Linked DNA regions of Homo sapiens. The protein of the gene in region 3 interacts with the protein of the main gene of each other region in a biochemical or structural test. Each region holds a gene or a part of one and is shown on either strand. Other genes may lie near its edges. The genes, in order: IWS1, TRPV4 and AKT3.

Region 1 (7,117 bases), on a different chromosome or scaffold from region 3:
TTTAAAAAACAAGTTCAGATCTTTTGGAGACACTTGTTGAGAGTTCAGCATGGATTCAATGATCTGTGTCTAGGATTTCTTTCAAAACAATTCAAGAATGGAGGGAAAGTAGCTAAAAGAAGACTAGCTATGTGTATTCAGTTGTTGAAATATATGCAACAGGTATATTATTCTATATTTGTAGAATTTGAAATTTTTCATAATTTAAAAAAATAGAAAAAACTGCCCAAGTAATACTGAAACTCTTCTTTGATATAGTATATTCCAATATCATATAACCTCACACCTGGAAAATTGTTCCTAATATAATAAACCAGAATTTCCCAGTTTTAATTTGTACCTTTAATGAACTCTGAAAATTTGACAGTTATGCTAATGTTCTACATTAAAATTGTTTCTCTCAATTTGTAGTTGTTAAAGGCAATTATTCTAATAGTTTTTTGGGTTTGACTGACATAGACAGATACAGAGCTTGGTGCTCTGCAGAAGATCCATCTTAAATTATTCTTTCTTGTAGGAAAAATTGTTTCTTTGAAAAACTGTTATTTTAAGGTTCAGAATTACAGTGAATTCAATATTAATAAAAAGTACTGTTTTAAAAAAAAATCTTTATTTTTTTTCTGAATAGGAAGACAGACAGTTGAACAATCAAAAAAAGCCAGCACTGAAAAAATTAACTTTACTGCCTGCTGTAGTTATGCACCTTAAGAAGTAAGTATTTTGTTTTCTTTAAAATGTCTTTTTCCTTTTCATGGAATGATAATTCAAATGATGTACTGGTGTTCTAGGAATATTAAATAATGATAGACTTCTATCGGTTCACAGAAAGATAATGAATAAAATTTCCTAAATTATATTTCTTCATAAATTTTTATTAAGCCTTGATGCCTGGTGCAAACAGAACAAATAAAAAATTGATACTAACGAAAGAAAAACTTGGAAACTACTAATTTTGTGTTTTTTTGTTTTGTTTTTGTTTTTTTGGTAAAGACAGGATCTTGCTATGTTGCCCAGGCTTGTCTTGAACTCCTGGGCTTAAGTAATCCTCCCACCTCATCCTCTCAAAGTGCTGGAATTACAGACATGAGCCACTGCACCTGGCCACTAATTTTGTTCTTTATAGACAGTTTTTGGTCTGGTAAAATTGCATCTGTTTTCTCCGTGTGATGGAAAATAGTAAATCTTGGAAGATCCTACCTGAAGGCTGCATTGTACAAGGCTTATATGACTCTAATGTGTCACAATTATTGATCCTTCTGAAGTAATGATGCCCTTTTTGAGTAGATCCTTGTTTCTAACTTTTTTCATTGATTTGCTTTTTTTTTTTTTTTTTTTTTAATTAGAGACAGGATCTCGCTGTGTTGCCCAGGCTGGTCTCGAACTCCTGGGCTCAGCCGATCTTCCCGTCTCAACACCCCAAAGGCAAAGTACTGGAATGGGATTACAGGTGTGAGCCACCACACCGGGCCCTGATTTGCTTATATTTCTGAGCAACCTTGCTTTCTCTTTGAACTAAGCCACAGCCTACTTTTGATGACTGAGGAAATGTATTGGTGCATCAGTGAGCTGCCACCAGCATGGCCTAGAGCATCTGTAACTAGAAAATTTCTCCCTCTATTCTAACAGGGGAAACTATCTGTGGCAGGTTTTATGTATATAATGTTATCTTTTCTATTAACATAACTGATTCCAGTACATAAAATGGAATTTAAGTATTATTTTATTGAGTTTTTTTTTTTTTTTTTTGTCCTGCCAGTGGAGTGCTAGTCTCATTGGTGTCCTGCAGAGAAGAGCAAATCTGGGTTCACCACCATGTAAAACTGTTCAAGAATCACTATTTTGATAGATTGAACGTTTTTTTTTTTTAGTTGAAAAGATTGGAGTTAATTGTTCTTACTGTCTGTACCATTCATATCAGCATTAATTTATCTTGTGTAACTTGAGTTTGTTTTGTTTTCAGCAAATCATCTTTGTCAAGTATATGCATTTCTGGAAAATAAGAACTAAATGTCATACTGCTTTCGAAACCAGAATGGTGTTCAGTAAATGTCAAATTTATATGAGTAACGCTTTAAAAGCAGTTTTTAGAAACATCACTAAATATGTAAGAAAAGTCGGAAGATACAGTAGAACCAAGGTTCACAGAATTTTTAAAAATTATTGTTACTGCAGGCAGGACCTTAAAGAAACATTCATTGACAGTGGTGTGATGTCTGCCATCAAAGAATGGCTCTCACCTCTACCAGATAGGAGTTTGCCTGCACTCAAGATCCGGGAGGAGCTGCTGAAGATCCTGCAAGAGGTTAGAGGCAGATAATCTGACTGTTCTTTATTAATTATCTAATGTGGTCTGTATGGTCATAACCTGTGTAGTTTACAGTGTTTTTATATGTTATCTCTGCTACAGCCTGCCAGAAGAGGGGTTGGAAAAAAGGAACATATCTAATAAAATGAGCGTGAAAGGGAAGACCTTATAAAACTTCATGTAACTATCGCATTGAAGGGAAAAAATCTTAGAGTAGCTGTAATGTGTCTGAGAAGAGTAGTACAGTAGTGGGCAAGTTCCAGGGAGAAATGTGACGCAGAATGAACACCAAATTCAGAATCATATGAACTTGCATTTGAATCTTGAGCTGGGCCACCTTACGTAGTTGTGACACCTTGGGTAAGCTATTTAACTTCTGAAGGAATTCCCAAGGAAACCTCCTATGCCACGCACTGTGCCAGGTGCTTTATATATGTATTGATTCGTTTTTTCCTCACAGTAAACTGAGAAGGTAGGTGTATTATTTCCATTTTACAGATGAGGGAATTAAGATGCAGAGAAGTTAAACGACTCGTCAAGGTCACATAGCTAGAAGGTGGCTGTGCTTGGGTTCAGTCTTAGGTCTATTGGATTCTGAGGCCTGTGCTGGCTCCTGTATTAAACTGCTAACCTCTGAGTACGCTTGGTTCATACTTTCTCACATTGTTAGGTTTTACTTCAACTCAGCTGTAATACTGAGCTCTCAACCTCTTTTTGTTTTTTTTTTTTTTGAGACGGAGTTTTGCTTCTGGTGCCCAGGCTGGAGTGCAGTGGCACCACCTCGGCTCACTTCAACCTCCGCTTCCTAGGTTCAAGCGATTCTCCTGCCTCAGCCTCCCGAGTAGCTGGGATTACAGGCGCCTGCCTCCACACCTGGCTAATTTTTGTATTTTTAGTAGAGATGGGTTTCACCACATGTTGGCCAGGCTGGTCTTGAACTCTTGACCTCAGGTGATCCACCCGCCTCAGCCTCCCAAAGTGCTGGGATTACAGGCGTGAGCCACCATGCCTGGCCTGAACTCTGAACTTTTGATGTGGACACAAAGTATCTTTGTGTTCTATGTCTGTAGATCCTGAAAATGGAATTTTTTATTTGTTCTGTTGTGAATGTGCCAGGTCTCTAGAATAGACTAGCAAGACCCCCAGCTTCCGAGTGATTAATATGTGTGTATGTGTTTATGTTCCCCAGCTGCCTAGTGTGAGCCAGGAGACCCTGAAGCATAGTGGGATTGGACGAGCAGTGATGTATCTCTATAAACACCCCAAGGAGTCAAGGTCTAACAAGGACATGGCAGGGAAATTAATCAGTATGTAAATTTTCCTTTTTGTTTGTTGTGTTTATGTGTATAGATAAGAGAGAGATGCGTATATATAAAAGCTGTATTTTTACCAGTATTTGTTTTAAACGAGTCGGTAAAGTGGAATAGAAATTTTTGAATAACTTCTTACAGGTACTAGCATTTTCTCTTAGACTTTAAAAAAAAACCTCAATATAATTAAGTATGCTATTCAGTATTAAAAATAGCAAGTAAGAGGCTGGGTGTGGTGGCTTAACGCCTGTAATCCCAGCACTTTGGGAGGCTTAGGTGGGCGGATCACAAGGTCAGGAGATCGAGACCATCCTAGCTAACACGATGAAACCCCATCTCTACTAAAAATACAAAAAATTAGCCGGGCATGGTGGTATACACGAGTAGTCCCAGCTACTCGGGAGGCTGAGGCAGGAGAATCACTTGAACCCGGGAGGCGGAGGTTGCAGTGAGCCGAGATCGCGCCACTGCACTCCAGCCTGGGCAACAAGAGCGAGACTCCGTCTCAAAAAAAAAAAAATTGCAAGTAAAAAGTATGCATTTTCTAGTCATGGGTCGAGAGCATGGAGAAAGAGAGGGGTTAGATTGCAGGCCATGGAGTTGATATTACCTGGGTTCAGATCATGAATCCACCACCTACCTTACTGCATTTCCTTAGCTAGTGATTTGTGCTCTGTAAAGTTGAGATAATTATGTGTTTTCTTTTGGGTGACTTTAAAGATTAAATGAGAGGTTGTGTCTAAAGCACGGTGCTTAGCACATAGTAAGTACTCAAGAAACAGCCATTGTTGTTGTTACTTGCACAATGGTCTTCAAAACCTTTTTGCATGTTCTTATTTAATGATGCCAGAGAAATCCAGAGAAGTCTAAACCAAAATTTATGTAATCAAGCGCCATGTTTGTGAAATTCTTCAGTTTTACGAATGAAACCCGTGTTTGTTTTTGTTGTCCTCCTTAACTCTTCCTGTCCTCCATGTTGAAAAGGAATTTTTAGAACTTCAAGGCTAGATTGAAAAAGTAACTACTACGTTCGAATAGAATAATTATTTTTCTTTTGAATTGTTAAGTTTATCAAAAGCTTTTAGAGAAATGTAAATTTCTTCTATAAACCAGAGATATACTACCATCTTTGATCTTGTCAGTAAACTGCAGCTTACTGCCTGTTAAGTAATAAACTTTTGGTGCTTTTATGCAGTAGTTTGCAACTTTATTTTTTTGCCCTAGACTGAGAAAAGCAGAATATCCCCACTGGTTTCCATGACTTACTACAGCAGTGATTCTGAATCCAGAAGTGGGGTCAATGGGGTGGTTTTAAAAGATACGTGGACCCCCTGAGAATCCCTGCTTCCTTCTTTGTGTGACAGCACCCATGTTCGGTCTATAAAGGTCCTTTCTTGTTTTTATAGTGTATTAAATGTAGCAGTAAGCTACATTATGTCTTAGAACAAAGACATCAGTTGGCTCCTGGACTTTGACTGACTGAACAGTGGCATATACTTTCTTTCATGGTCATTGTAGCAGCTATGTTAGACTTAATGAAGTACAAAGTCTCCACCCGCACTATTAAACTGTAATTTTTAAAGGTACAGACCATTTTGTAAGGTAGTTGTAAAGGAGTTTGTTCTGGGTTAGGATAAGAAAGCAGAATTTCAAGACTTTTTTATTTCCAGTAGCGTAAACTTAGAAATTAGTCTGCCTTTTAAAATAAATAAATAAAAATTTTAAATAAATGTCTTTTATGAAATGTCAATCCAGCTAATTGTTGACTATTAAAGTGTATCACATGTTACTTTCTTTAAATCTCTGTGGTGATCTTTTACATTAAATTTTCTGAATCAGCCAGAGTCAGTCAGTACACTGGCATTATGCTTTGTTTATCCTATAAATTACTCTGAAATAATGGACTCTTCAAGGAAAGAATATTCTAAATGTCTAGAATATCCCCTCACACTGGGGTGCAATTATTTGAAAAAAATGGAAATGCAATTTTATGGACAAAATAATTGATTTTTTTCTTACTACAGATGAGTGGTCTAGGCCTATATTTGGTCTTACCTCAAACTACAAAGGAATGACAAGAGAAGAAAGGGAGCAGAGAGATCTAGAACAGATGCCTCAACGACGAAGAATGAACAGGTATGAGGGAACAGGTATGAGTAAGTGGAATACACGTTATTGTTGCAGTAACTCAGTTTTAAGTAAGATCATTAGGAAGCCTGCAAGATGATAGGATTTCCTTTCCTCTCAGCTTGATATGTGTACATAATTCATAATATCCTTTTAGTTTAAATGTGATAGTGTATAGTGAGGGTCCTGTCCTCCTAACCAGACCTTTCTGGGTCAGTTTGTTGGAACAGGGCCTGTTTCAGGATACTGATTGCTTGTGTTGTTCCATCCACTTGAGAAAACAACTTTCTGGGTCCCGTTTCCGAGTTCCTAGAAGAAAAAATGTTATAGTTTTAGTTTGTATTGATAATAGTGGATACAGTTGCATCCAGGAGGACAGGGTCATTAGTTACAAATGTGGCAATTACGGCTCATCCACAAGGAAACCTGTTATGCAAATGAATACTAAAATGAGTAGTACTTTTTAAAGATTAGGAATTATTTTCCCTGATCCATCGTAAAAGAGCTATTAATAGTTATGGTCTAAGTTTGATTTTTAGTTTGCTCTTTTTCTGAGTTATTAGGTTCTAATATTCCTGGTATCTCCTTGTTTACTTTTTTTTCAGCACTGGTGGTCAGACACCCAGAAGAGACCTGGAAAAGGTGCTGACAGGAGAGGAGAAGTAAGGTTTTAATGTTAATTTTTCTTCCTAGACTATATAGAGAATTTCCGTTTGCTGCTTTAAGAAAAGTAGTAAATGAAATGATGTTATGCTCTCATTTGTGGGAGGTGACTTTCATTTTAACGTTTAGTATCTACAAAGCATTGTATTGGGTACTCTGGGGATGTAAGGAAAATTGAGAAAATAATTCATTCAATAAAGATTTTATTGCTGTTTGCTAAGTGCTAGACTCCTTGTTGTGCTCTGAGAATATAAAAACAAATTAAAAATAGTCTATGCTCTCAAAAGTGTAAGTCTTTACAAGGATGATAGGCAAAGGGAGGTCTTTGGTAAAGCCATGGGCTAAGTGTGCCAGGTCTGTGTTTGGAATGGCAAGTAGACTGAAGGGGTTGGACAGTAGTATGGGGCCTGAGGTGGTAGAAGATAAGGTTGGAAATAATAGACCGGTGAAGGGCTTTGAATCAAGATGAGGAATTTTCACGTCTTGTGATTCCACAGGAAGTTTTTGAGGCTGGATGTGAAGCCATCTGGTTTGATTTGATTTAGGGTGCTGATGCCAATGGCATCATGTAGGATGGATTGGAGGGCAGTGGGACTGAGGCAGTGATACAGCTAAACAGAGGTGGTAGTTGGGAAACAGAGGGGTGAGAAGACATTGCAGAGGCAAAGCTGTCATATGTTGGTGACTTAGTGGGAGAGAAGATGGCTAGAGT
Region 2 (7,103 bases), on a different chromosome or scaffold from region 3:
TGCTTGACTCAGTGCTTGGCACACAGTAAGTGCTCAATAAAGGCTTGCCACCATCATAATAGTTGTTAATGCAACCCAGGGTTGGCTAAAGCCAGACAGAACCTTGTACCCAGAGTTCATAACAGCAGCCACTTATCTCAAGAGATCGGAATTAATCTTTAACAGGTGAATTCTGCTCCAAATGGGCGATGTGGAGCATTCCAGAGGGCCCACTGGCATGAAATAAATGTTATCTTGGCTCCCCAGACCCTATCTGTGACAACAAGAGGAGCTGTTACCTGGGTCCCTATAATTTGGAGAACGGACTGGAGTGTCTTTCCCAAAGTCAAATGGGGGAAACTGAGGCAGACAGCAGGGTCAAGGGCCTGCATGGAGTAGAGACACCCACTTCATGTAGACCCCATCCCCCTAGGAACAGAGGAAGGAACTCAAAGGACTTTGACCATCTCAAAAGTATTTGTTCAGACAACCATGCCATAGATACTGACTGAGCACCTACTATGTGCCAGGCACATGAGGCTCAGTCTTGTGTGTTTCCTTCCCTCCTACATCTCCTTCCAGCTGCCGCTCTCCACTCAGAGCTTGGATGACTTCCCCAGCCTTGGGGCCAGCCTCTCTGTCTGAGCTCCTCCAATCTTTCCCACTCTGCAGCCACAGGGACCTTTCTAGAACAGACAAACAACCGTGTCACTCCCAGGCAGGACTTCTGGGCCTCTGGGTCTGATTTAGCTCCTGCCTGTCTGATCCCTCACCCTTTCCAGTCACGTCACAAACTCCAGACAAACAGAACTATTTCTCTGCTCTATAAACCCCAGGTGTAGCCACCTGGTAACAGGTAAAAGTCATATCTCTGCTAGTGCCATTCTCTTTGCCTGAATACTCTTTCCTCTACTTCTGCATTTATTCTTTAAGGTGCGGCTTAAACACTACCTTGACCAAGCCCTCGTGGGTCCTTCCTGGGCCAGTCCTCCTACCCTACGGCATTCTCCCCTGACCCCATCCATTCCACAGCATACATTTACTAAGCGTCGGCCATCCATGCACACCTTGCTAGATGCTCACAAGTCAGGTGTGGGAGCTCCTCCCCGGGGGGCCACAAGGGAAAATCCTTCTTGCCTTCACACGCCTCAGGCTACAGCGAAGCTGGGATTGGAAGCATCTCACTGCTCCAGTGCCCAGCCCAGAGCTGGCACAGGTGAGCTTGCAGAGAGCATTTGCTGGAGGAGGGAGTAAGTGGCAGAGGCCCAGTTGGCACCAGATAAGGCAGGAGGAACCTCCACAGCCCCTTCCCCAGATATAAGGTATCTGGGTTTCACCTGGGGAATCCCAGCCATCCTCACCGGAGCTCATGTGAAACATCCCTCCTGGGGGCATCACACCCTTTTTGTTCAGGCAACCATTCCCTGGTTACCTCCATTTCAAAACAGCCCCACCTTGATCTTACAAAGTGAACCGCCCTGAACTATGACTGCCATTTGCCATTTGTGTCTGGGACCCCTTCCGCGTGCAATTCACCAATCAAGGTGGGTGTCCAGGCTTTCTGGTTCCCATCATTCTTCAAACAGAATGAACTAGAGAAATGTGGAAATGGCCAATTGACTTTTTTCACCCTCTTTGTTAAGAAAATGTTTGGGGCAACGACAACTGGTTAAACATTGATGGCAGCCAACAGTGGCTGTGCCAGGTTCCTGGAAGGTCATCGGTCCTCACGACAGCCCTGGGGGCTTGCCCTCAGGCACCCCAGTATTACAGAGGAGAGAACACAAAGGCTCAGACAGCTAAGGGACCAGGCCAAGGTCACACAGCAGGGGACTGCAGAGCACACCCCGGGCCCCACACAGGCCCGCTCTTAGCCCCGCAGATAACCCAGGCCTGACCTTTCTACCCTTGTTCCCCCAAAAGCCCACCTCGTCACCCTCCTCAGGAGCCCGGGGAGTCCCGACTTACCCTCTGCCCTTGCTCCGGAGCCAAAGTGGCAAAGCTTAAATCCTCAAGCGGTTCTTAGCATCCCAGAACAAAGCTCCCACAGGGTATCTGCCTAACATTTCAGGGGTTCACGGCCCCTCTGCCCCCAGCAGAGGCTCTTGTTTTAGAAGCTGAGCCAGAACAGCCACAGGGCCCACCTCTGCCCTGCCACTTCCCAAGCACCCCGGGGGCACCAGGCCCTGTGTGCAGAGCTGGCCCCAGGACAGGCCACCTGGTGTGGTGGGAAGGGCTTTGGGGCTGGATAGTCCCTGGGTTTAAATCCCAATTGTCTAGATCCCCGACCTAAGCCTCAGTTTCCCCATCTGCAAAACAGAGAGGACAGACAGAGGGAACAGCTGGGGCAGGCTGGAGCAGTGGGTGGCTCGATGAATGCATCTGTGGTTGGTGTTTCCAGGCAAGCGGGGAGTGTGGGAGTCTCTCTCTCCCCCACCCCCACCCCCGCTACCCACCCCCAGGAGCCACCCGCCCCCGGGACGTCCTGAGAGTCCAGGGCAGAACTAGAGGTTAAAGATTTTCATGCCTCTTGGAGGAAACAGCCGTCTCTCCGGGACTCAGTAACCAAGAAGAAGCCTTTGGAAGCTCCAGACTCCAAATTCCCTCCGACATGCTCAGGGGCCAAGGGCAAACCTTAGGTCCCCCGAAATCCCTCTTCCAAGTCTCCTAAGGTGGGCTGCAAGGCTCCGGGCCTTTGGTTCCCTGGCTTGGGGTCTCAGGGAACCGAACCGCCCTCCCCCCAGACCTGCTACCCCAGGCCCCACGTTGGTGCCCATTTCACAGGTGATAAAACCGAGACCCAAAGAGCCGGTGTCCGGCCCAAGGGCACTTAGCTGAGAGGCTGGCGCCTGCGGAACCTGGTGCCTTCCGTCTCCCGCGCCCCTGGCCCGCATTTTGGAGCCTCGGGACCCCCCGGAGCCGGACGGGCCACGGAGATGTCCCCAGGGGCGCGAGGGGACCTCGGCTGAGCCGCCCCTCCCGGGCCCGGGCCCCACTTACCTCCGGGACGGCTGGGCGCCGGCGGCCGGGAGATCCGCGCTTCCTGAATCCCGGCCGGCCCGCCCGGCGCCCGTCCGCCCGCGGGTCCCTCCTCCGCCGGCTCAGGTTCCAGCCGCGCGCCGCCCCCGGCCAGCTCCCCGCCCACCCGCCGGCTCGCGGACCCCGCCGAGCGCAGGCCCTAGAAGGGGCGGCCCCTACTCGCACCCCGCCCGCCCAGCGAGGGCCTCCCCTGCGGGGGAGGTGCAGGGCCAGGGCCTCAGTTTCCTCGCCTGGAAAATGGGTGTCGCGATCCCCGGATAGAGCGGCAGACGGTCTTTGGAGAGGGCTCTAGTTGGAATCGGCTCCGATTCGATCTTGCTCCGTGACTTCGGGCCGCCCTGGGACTGTGTCCTAGTCTCTAAATGGGCGTCCCGGCCCAGTCCTCCACGTGTTTGCTCATTCATTCATTCAGCAGACAATTTCCTCCGAGGCGTTGAAGGAGGTCCCTACCCTCGGGTATGGCCCATAGAGATGGTTCAGGGGTAAATAAATGTGAGCTGCTCTCCTTGGTCTTCACCCAGTGCTTACTGCGAAGCCTGCCTCGGAGTAGGCCATCAATGTTTTGTTGCTGTTGTTTTTGAGACAGGGTCTCACTCTGTTGCCCAGGCTGGAGTGCGGTGGCGTGATCAGGAATCACTGCAGCCTCAACCACCAGCGTTCAAGCAATCCTCCCGTATCAGCCTCCCTAGTAACTGAGACCACAGACGCCTACCACCATGCTTGGCTAATTTTATTTAAATTTTTTGCAGAGATAGGGTCTCACTATGTTGCCTAGGCTGGTCTCAAACTCCAGGCTCAAGCGATCTACCCACCTCGGCCTCCCAAAGTGCTGGGATTAGAGGTCTGAGTCACCGTGCCTGGCTCAATGCGTTTTTGTTTATTTTTTTTATTATTATTATTATTTTTGATACATGTTCTCCCTTTGTCACCCAGGTTGAAGTGCAGTGGCATGATCACGGCTCACTACAGCCTCAAACTCCTGGCCTCAAGAGATCCTCCCACCTCAGCCTCCTGAGCAGCTGGGAGTACAGGCATGCGCCACCACACCCCACTAATTTTTATTTTTTTGTAGAAGGGGGGGTGGGGGAGGGCAGCCGGTCTACAACTCCTGGCCTCAAGTGATCCTCCCACTTCAGTCTCCCAAAGCACTGAGAGTATAGGCATGAGCCACCACACCTACCCATGTATTTTCTTTTATCAGATAACAAAGGTGGGCCCCAACACATAGCCATACCCTCTACCCAGCACTGAGTCCACTTGAATACCTCCACAGGATGGGCAGCTCACTTCCTCCAGGGTGGTTGGAAAGCCTAGCAGGCCCACAGCTTGGCTCTGTGACTCTCTAACCCAGCAGCCCTATGCAAGTCCCTTCACCTTTGTGCCTCAGTGCCTCTACATCCCCCTGTAGAGTGGGGCATACAAAAGTCCTCACCTCACAGTCGCAGTGAAGATGCTGGGAGCATCCAGGCTGTGCAGAGCCCTTTTTTTTTTTTTTTTGAGACAGAGTCTTACTCTGTCGCCCAGGCTGGAGTTCAGGGGTGTGATCTCAGCTCACTGCAACCTCTGCCTCCTGAGTTCAAGCGATTCTCCTGCCTCAGCCTCCTGGGGGCTGGGATTACAGGCATGCGCCACCACGCCAGGCTAATTTTTTGTATTTTTAGTAGAGACAGGGTTTCACCATGTTGGCCAGGCTGGTCTTGAACCCCTGACCTCAGTTGATCCACCCACTTTGGCCTCCCAAAGTGCTGGGATTACAGGTGTGAGCCGCCGTGCCCGGCCCAGAGCCATGCCATTTTCATCATTAGTGTTTTCACTAAATTGAGCTGACTCAGGGACTGTGGGGTAGCTCCTTCCTCCTCAGCTTGAAAATAGCAGCATCTCTCCTGAGGTCCAACAGCTGGAAAGTGAAATTTTAGAATTGCTGGGTGGGGAGGCGAAAGAGAGAGAGAGAGAGTGTGTGTGTGTGTGTACCCCTGAATAGGAGTGATGTGTTCACCTCCAGCGTGAAACATTTACAAAGAAACAAACCCTAATAATTAACTCACTGAGCACAGAAGCCTAGGGGATGAGAGGGAGAACAGGCTGTGAGGTAGGGTTTGCTCTACCCATTTTGCAAGTGGGAAACTGAGGCTTGGAGAGGAGTATGGCCTCTCCAAAAGCTGCTCCCTCCATGGTGGGGGTTGGGGTGGGAAAGAGAACCCTCTGAGGGTCCGGAGTAAACAGGCAGATGTCTGGCAGTGGAGAGGAAGGTAAACACAGGGCCCCTCACACCTCCCTGACAGACAGCTATCTGCTGGGGGCCCTCAGGGCTGGGGCTGGGGCTGGGCCAGGTTGAGAGTGGAGGAGTGAGTCTGGGACCCATTTCTGCAGAAAGGCCTGTCTCAATTTAAAGAAAATGGCAAGGGTGATTCCAGCCATAAGGCAGCTGATGTTGGGGACTGGAACTGGGGGAGATGGGGCCAGGGATGGCGACCTCCTCTTCTCTAAGCTCAGAGGGAAGGGGCCTGAGCGCTCAGCATCATCATCACTAACCCAGCTCTTTCCTGATCCCCATTTCACAGATGGGGCAACTGAGGCCCCCATGTAGGGAAGTGACTCATCTTGGGCTAAGCAGCTGGAGCTTGGCCTCTGCACCAGACACTGGGGTTCAAATCCTGCCCTGCCGCTGATGGGAGAAGGAGCTGTGGTGGGAGCTGTGGGCAAGAGCCTCCCTCTCTCTCTGTGCCTCAGTTTCCTCACCTAAAAAATGGGTACCAGTGTCCATGAAGCAAGGGAACGTGTTCATGACCACAGGTCTAGCACCTGGCACTTAGTAGGTGCTTTAAAAATACTGGTTGATGGGTCAGGCGAAGTGGCTCATGCCTGTAATCCCAGCACTTTGGGAGGCTGAAGTGGGCAGATCAACTGAGGTCAGGAGTTCGAGACCAGCCTGGCCAACATGATGAAACCCCGTCTCCACTAAAAATACAAAAATTAGTTGGGCATGGTGGTGGGCACCTGTAATCCCAGCTACCTGGGAGGCTGAGACAGAATTGCTTGAACCTGGGAGAGGGAGGTTGCAGTGAGCAGAGATCGTGCCACTGCACTCCAGCCTGGGCAACAGAGAGCGACTCCATCTCAAAAAAAAAAAAAGTCCTGGTTGATGGAGCTGGGGGAGAGGAGAATGGGAGGTTGCTGTTTGTTGGGCGTAGGGTTTCAGTTTTGCAAGATGCAAAGAGTTCTGGAGATGAACGAGGGTCACACAACAATATGAATATACTTTTTAAGTTTAATTTTTAATCTTTTTTTTTTTATTTTTAGAGAGAGACAGGGTATTGCTCTGTAGCCCAGGCTGTAGTGCAGTTGCCTGCTCATAGCTCACTGCAGCCTCAAATTCCTAGGTTCAAGCGATCCTCCTGCCTCAGCCTCCTGAATAGCTGGGACTATAGGTGTGTGTCACCAAGCCTGGCTTTTTAAATTTTATTTTTTGTACAGGTGAGGTCTCGCTATGCTGCCCAAGCTGGTCTCAAACTCCCGTGCTCAAGTGATCCTCATAACCTGGCCTCTCAAAACATTGGGATTACAGGCATGAGCCACTGTGCCTAGCCAGAAATAATGTTTCCTCTTAGGGAAGGAAAAACTTTCAAGGCCCTCAGCATTGGCTGTGAGTCATGTGGCAGCCACATGTGGGGCGCAGCCTTGCTCTCCACGTAGCTCCTGGACTGCCCCAGGTGGACTCAGCTACCTCCCCTAAGAAAGGTTCCTGGGCAGCAGCCAAGGGTCTGCATTTACCAAGTGCTTACTGTATGCCAGGTCCAGTGCCAGATGCTGGGGAGAGATTGGTGAGCCAGACAGGTCAGGATCTCAGGGACTTTATACCCAGGGTACCCAGTTATAAAAACAAGACACGTGCACCTCACTTTACAGTTGGCACAGTCCTGATCCTGCCACTAACTCAGTTCATCTTTTGACAGCCTGGAAAGGAGGAATTCTTCCACCATTTTATAGATAATGACACAAAGAGGCCACTTGTCTGAGATCATCCCACAACTGGTAAGATTTGAACCCAAGCCCAGCAGACTCTACAGTGTAGCATGACCAGCAGG
Region 3 (5,137 bases):
AGTACACCCAATCCCCTCTTCCAACACATGTGAGGTTTCCATGTGAAAGTACTTTTTCATAGGTTACAATAAATTGCTTGCAGTTACAAATTTGGAGGTGTTTCAGCTTGTATTGTTTCACGAGGAATTTCTTAGGGGCACTTGGCCTACACCCTGTTTTTGTTCTAGAATTACCTGCCGTTAAGGTCAGATAAATTTTCAGTAAACAGATTATGGCACAAATCAATGTGTCCTTTCCCGGACAGAAGAGATGGCTCTCTGGCCATGTCCTAACACCAGACTGTCCTTATTTAAGAGGCAGGCGTGTCTTTTGTCTAGGTTGTCTTCAAATTTAACCCATTAAACCAGTTAACCTTATTTCATATGTGAAGGGCTTTGATGTGGACAAGATGAGGCACAAACTTTTCATATAATTTCCACATTTTTAGCAACAGGTTTTTTTCTCCAACAACAGTTTTCATCATAAAAGGTGACTAAACCAGCAAATGAGAAGACAAATAACATTGAAGAACATGAGCTATTGAAACTTACTTTTTATTATTTTTTCCAGTTACCCAGCATGCCACAATCTGATTGCTGACCTGGATGGAACAGAGTGAAATAAATGATTTACAAAGAGATATTTACATTCATCTGGTTTAGACTTAATATGCCACAACGCACCACGACCTTCCCAGGGTGACACCGCCTCAGCCTGCAGTGGGGCTGGTCCTCATCAACGCGGGCGCTGTCCCCGCACGCAGTCGGGCTGGAGCTGGAGTCTGACTCTAGCTGAGCAGAGCTCCTGGTGTATGTTTTCAGAAATGGCTTGAAGTTATGTGTTTAAATCTGCTCATTCGTATGCTAGGTTATACATATGATTTTCAATAAATGAACTTTTTAAAGACTTGAGTTGTAATGTTTCCTTTTTATCTTGTAGTGATGAACAAAACACACCAAAAAGGCACATATTTTAACTAGGCCAAAGTATATTAAGGACCAAACTTTTTTTCCTGCCATTCATTTTTCTTTTCATGATCTATATATCAATCATCCTTCACCTTTAATCAATGTCCCATCAGACTCCATTTTATTTATTTATCGTCCTACTTTGTGCACAATCAATCAATCAGGAGACACCAGGAAGCACTATGCATTACTCTTTCCATTCTGTTAAACAACGAAAACAGACAAAAAAGCATCTTTGGCTCGGTGGTGTCAGATTTTTTTCTTCAATACGCAGTATTTGAGAGGAGCCTAAAAACGTACTTAGTGAAATTAGAAAATTTACTTAGAGTATATCAAATATCTGTACACAGATAATTATTTGTCTAAAATAGTATTTCTACTATACACAATTAAGCCCTCAAATGCTTTAAAGTAATAAAAACGGACACTGGACATACCGTGTTGTATCTGAGAATGACAAACACTAAAGGCAAGGCTGCAGTTAGTTAGGACAGGTCCCTGACCTTCGGCTGCCCTGCCTGGCCAGCGAGCCATCATCCTCATCACCATCTCAACACAGAGCTGATGTCACCATATGCTCAGCCTTGCCTCTCAGAAGTGATGTGGATTAGGCTTTGGAGGCGGTGGCATGATCTACACACAGAGACCATTTGAATCTCTTGAGCATGTAAAAGGTTCAAGCCTGAAACAGTAGAACTTCTATTCAGATTCAGAAGTTTTTTATTTCATCAAATGTGCTAGACATAAAGGCTGTCACATAAGATATTTTAATTGTCCTTAATTCTGTTTTAGATATACTGTGAATAAATTATACAATATTCTAAAAATAGCACCTTTAAAGAATTATAGAGGTCACTTTTTTTTAGCCTCCTGGATCTGTCAACCCCAGTGGTTTTGAGAGAAGAGCACATGTGAGAATGCCCTCAAATTTGGCCGTGTGACATACACATACATGCTTGACTCACTCTGGTCCCAAAAGCCATTCCTCTGTCTGGCTTCGTCACAGGAGCAAAGCCAAGTTTCTACAATAGTAGCTTTATGAGGTAAAATCAGAAAAAGGCCCCATCCAGAATGATTCAACGTGAAGTCAGACTGCAGTCCAGCCATCCTACCCATCTACATCACCCACGTCTAAGTTTGTTAATTTGCCATGACATGTTGTTAGAAATACACTCTAAGAAAGGAAATATGCAGAGCAGTACATTATCAGGAAGACGTTAATGAAAAGCTACATTCCTTCAGATTCTGGGTCCAAACCGTGTGTTGTATAGATGATTCGGGTCTGAATGTCCCCAGGGTCTGAGACCTCCTTCATCCCTGGCTTCACAGTACATCCATCCTAAATCCAGTGCTGAGAGGTCAGCGTTTCCCCTCAGAAGCAGCCGTTCATCAAAGTTTGCACAACCGCACTACTGCCATTTCACTGAAGTAAAAATGATCCCCTATGTGTGTGTGTGTGAGCTACAAGGAATTATTTCTATATTTTCCTGTCACATTTTATACAAGGTAGGTTAATACCAGCTGGGGCTATTAAAAATCATGTTTTCATTAAAGAAGATTTAATTTGGGGGGATTATAGAACCACATCCAACAACAATAAACAGAGAAGTAGCAGATTGACATAGTGCTTTATTTAAGCTGTCTGTACGAAGGAAAATCATGTTCATCCCTATCATATACGTGTAAAAATACTAAGGATGTACAGTGTACAAAAACAGTTTCTCCTAGTTATTCCACATCCTTGTGGGTCATATACTTCAGGAAATAGACAGGTTTAGTATGACCAACAGTAATAGTAATACAGTTTCTTGGGTTTATAGTTGCATCTGCTTAAAATCCTTAACCAGATGACTAGATCTTGCGCAGATCTAATGAAAGAACTAGCAAGGTCAAGAAATGTCACAAACTATAAAGCTACAGGGAGGTAATTCAATTACCAATTTAGAGGTTTTCTTTTTATTTAAATAAATACTTTACATTTCATGCTTGCCTGTAATGCACTACCAGGAGCAAGATAAGGAAATTCTACTGTAGACAGTACAAACAGTAGCAGCAAAGTGTGTATGTTGAGGTGTAATAGAGAGACCCTGCAGTTAGTAAGGAAGGCCCTTACTTTTGTACTCTAGGAGAAGCAAGTGGCCCCTGCAAGAACAGTCAGCTTTAAGAAGCTGGAAATCAGGGATGGGAAATGGAAAACAATACTTGAATAATGCTATGTAATTAGTGTAGAAAGCAAAGCTGAGCGCGACCCTGCCAACCATCTAAGCAGAAATGGCCAATTTCCTCCAAGATGGCTGCATTATGACAAGAAGTCAAGCTTCATGACAGTTAGTATGGGCTGGAGTCTGCAAAGTCTGAACTGTATTCTCATAGAATGATTCCAGGTTTCAGGGTGTTCCACCTGCCAGAACCCAAAACTACAACTATGGGCGACACAAGGGAAGTTTTAGAAATCTCCCTCTACACGCATTTCTGGTTTTCTATTATTCCTCCATGGCAGCTGACAGATCTGGAAGTGAAAATAGGGGATTCTCAAAATCAAAGCCAAGAAGACACCTTGTGTGACACCAATGGAGTCTCAGAGGGTGGAATAGAAGTGACTGAGCCCCAGGCATGGCTGGGAACTGAGAGCCAGTGTGAGGAGTGGCCCGCCTGGGGCAATGTCAGTGCCAGTCATTAATCTTTAAGAAGTGTCCTTGGCCAAGGTCATGGGAATCACTTTAAGATTTGCGGGAGAAAAAACCAAAACAACAAAAAGCTGTGTGCTTAGTGTTCGGTGTCATGCTTTCCCTCTAGAGGAGTAAGTGCTCTGAACATCAGCCAGTCTCAGCTTTCTGCTCTTCCTCTCACCTGTTTCTTTCTTATATAATGGATGCAAGACAACTTAAAGAACATACCTTCTAGTCTACTTTTTTGTCAAAATGAAACATTCAACATAATTCCAAGTGAAAAAAAAAAGATTAGCTATGTGTGTAAGTAAGAATGAACTACCATTTACTGTAACTTCCTACTCAATACTAAGGATGAACTTCACTCAGGTAGAAATATGAAAAAGAAGGATAACGTTGATGTCTGAATATGTCTTAGCTGCCTTAGTAAAATGCCCTTTAACCCCCGTCAGTCCCAGTGGCCCACCCACTGCCAGCAGTGGTTTCATAGCTATAAATCCACACTTCCAGCGTCAAGAGGCTAAGACATCTGCATATGAATATGATTCATCCTACTTAGAAAGTCACTTGCTCTTTCATACAATGCAATCATAATACTACGTCATGCTGTAGTCTTCCGTTTGGGAGCTGTCAGAGTTTAACTAAAATACATTTCCATGATCACTCCGCGGAGTAGGATGGCCTTCTGCTTGCCGCAAGAGTGGCCCCCAGCCCCTAGGACTTCACAGGCTGCTTTGGAAATTGTCAGCTCCTAGCACCAAAGGGTTTAATCTGAAGATCATCATTAATGAAGGAGAAAGATGAGGTTTGCATACATGCCCCCTTTCAGTGAGAAATGTTGGAATCTGGGGGACATGAGTATATACAGAAAAAGAAAAGCTGGAGGTGTTCTCTTTTTTTGTTGTTTTTTCCCTGATGGCTTAATTCAGTGATAAATGTACCATGATCCCAAGAAACACACCAGGTTCTTAGCCTTCACTGCCCATTTCCTAAATACTCAAGATGTGTTCATTTTGCCACGTAAAGATCATTTCTTATCTTCACTCAGGTCTCAATTTTCTTCATTACTTTTTGTTGCCAGGTCATCATAACGTTTCAAATTCTTAAATGAGCAAACGTCAACAGCTATTTGTTTCATTAACCCCTTGGCATGCATAGTTGGGGATTTTCTCATTTTCAGTACCAAGGGGTTAAATGGCAGCATCTCTTCTCCCAAAGCCAAATTCTAACCAATATATTCCATTTCAGAGCCTTATCATTTTTTTTAACAGAGGAGAAAAAGTGCATGATTCTCATCAGCGTGTACAATCCTTGCACATGGGTCAAAAGTAACTGCAGTAAGTCTATTTTATATAAGTTGGAGCTGCGTTTGCTAACATGACATACAATTCTCATCACTAAAAAATAAATACTACTGCAATATAAACAAAATCATAAAAGGACATTCAAAGTTTCAACATCTGAGAAAAAGCTAATTCACGTAGAACTGAAAGTAAAAAATTAAATAAGGCAAACACCTG

The links.
Region 1: of the proteins of AKT3 (region 3) and IWS1, one has a biochemical effect on the other in vitro, tested with the Homo sapiens proteins (one study listed by BioGRID).
Region 2: the proteins of AKT3 (region 3) and TRPV4 interact in a test that uses a peptide from one of them, tested with the Homo sapiens proteins (one study listed by BioGRID).

Annotation. Positions count from the first base shown.
Region 1 is NC_000002.12:127,488,466-127,495,582, reverse strand, and holds part of IWS1 (protein IWS1 homolog), read left to right. Parts: intron 1-628; coding exon 629-711; intron 712-2,172; coding exon 2,173-2,302; intron 2,303-3,494; coding exon 3,495-3,612; intron 3,613-5,639; coding exon 5,640-5,751; coding exon of another isoform or gene 5,752-5,765; intron 5,766-6,347; coding exon 6,348-6,404; exon of another isoform or gene 6,405-6,625; intron 6,626-7,117.
Region 2 is NC_000012.12:109,830,371-109,837,473, forward strand, and holds the start of TRPV4 (transient receptor potential cation channel subfamily V member 4), read right to left. Parts: upstream 3,029-7,103; 5' UTR 2,980-3,028; exon of another isoform or gene 2,978-2,979; intron 1-2,977. UniProt on the Homo sapiens protein: Non-selective calcium permeant cation channel involved in osmotic sensitivity and mechanosensitivity. Activation by exposure to hypotonicity within the physiological range exhibits an outward rectification.
Region 3 is NC_000001.11:243,499,206-243,504,342, forward strand, and holds the end of AKT3 (RAC-gamma serine/threonine-protein kinase), read right to left. Parts: 3' UTR 582-5,137; coding exon of another isoform or gene 538-581; 3' UTR 519-537; downstream 1-518. Other genes in the region: SDCCAG8 (serologically defined colon cancer antigen 8), read left to right, coding at 551-580. UniProt on the Homo sapiens protein: AKT3 is one of 3 closely related serine/threonine-protein kinases (AKT1, AKT2 and AKT3) called the AKT kinase, and which regulate many processes including metabolism, proliferation, cell survival, growth and angiogenesis.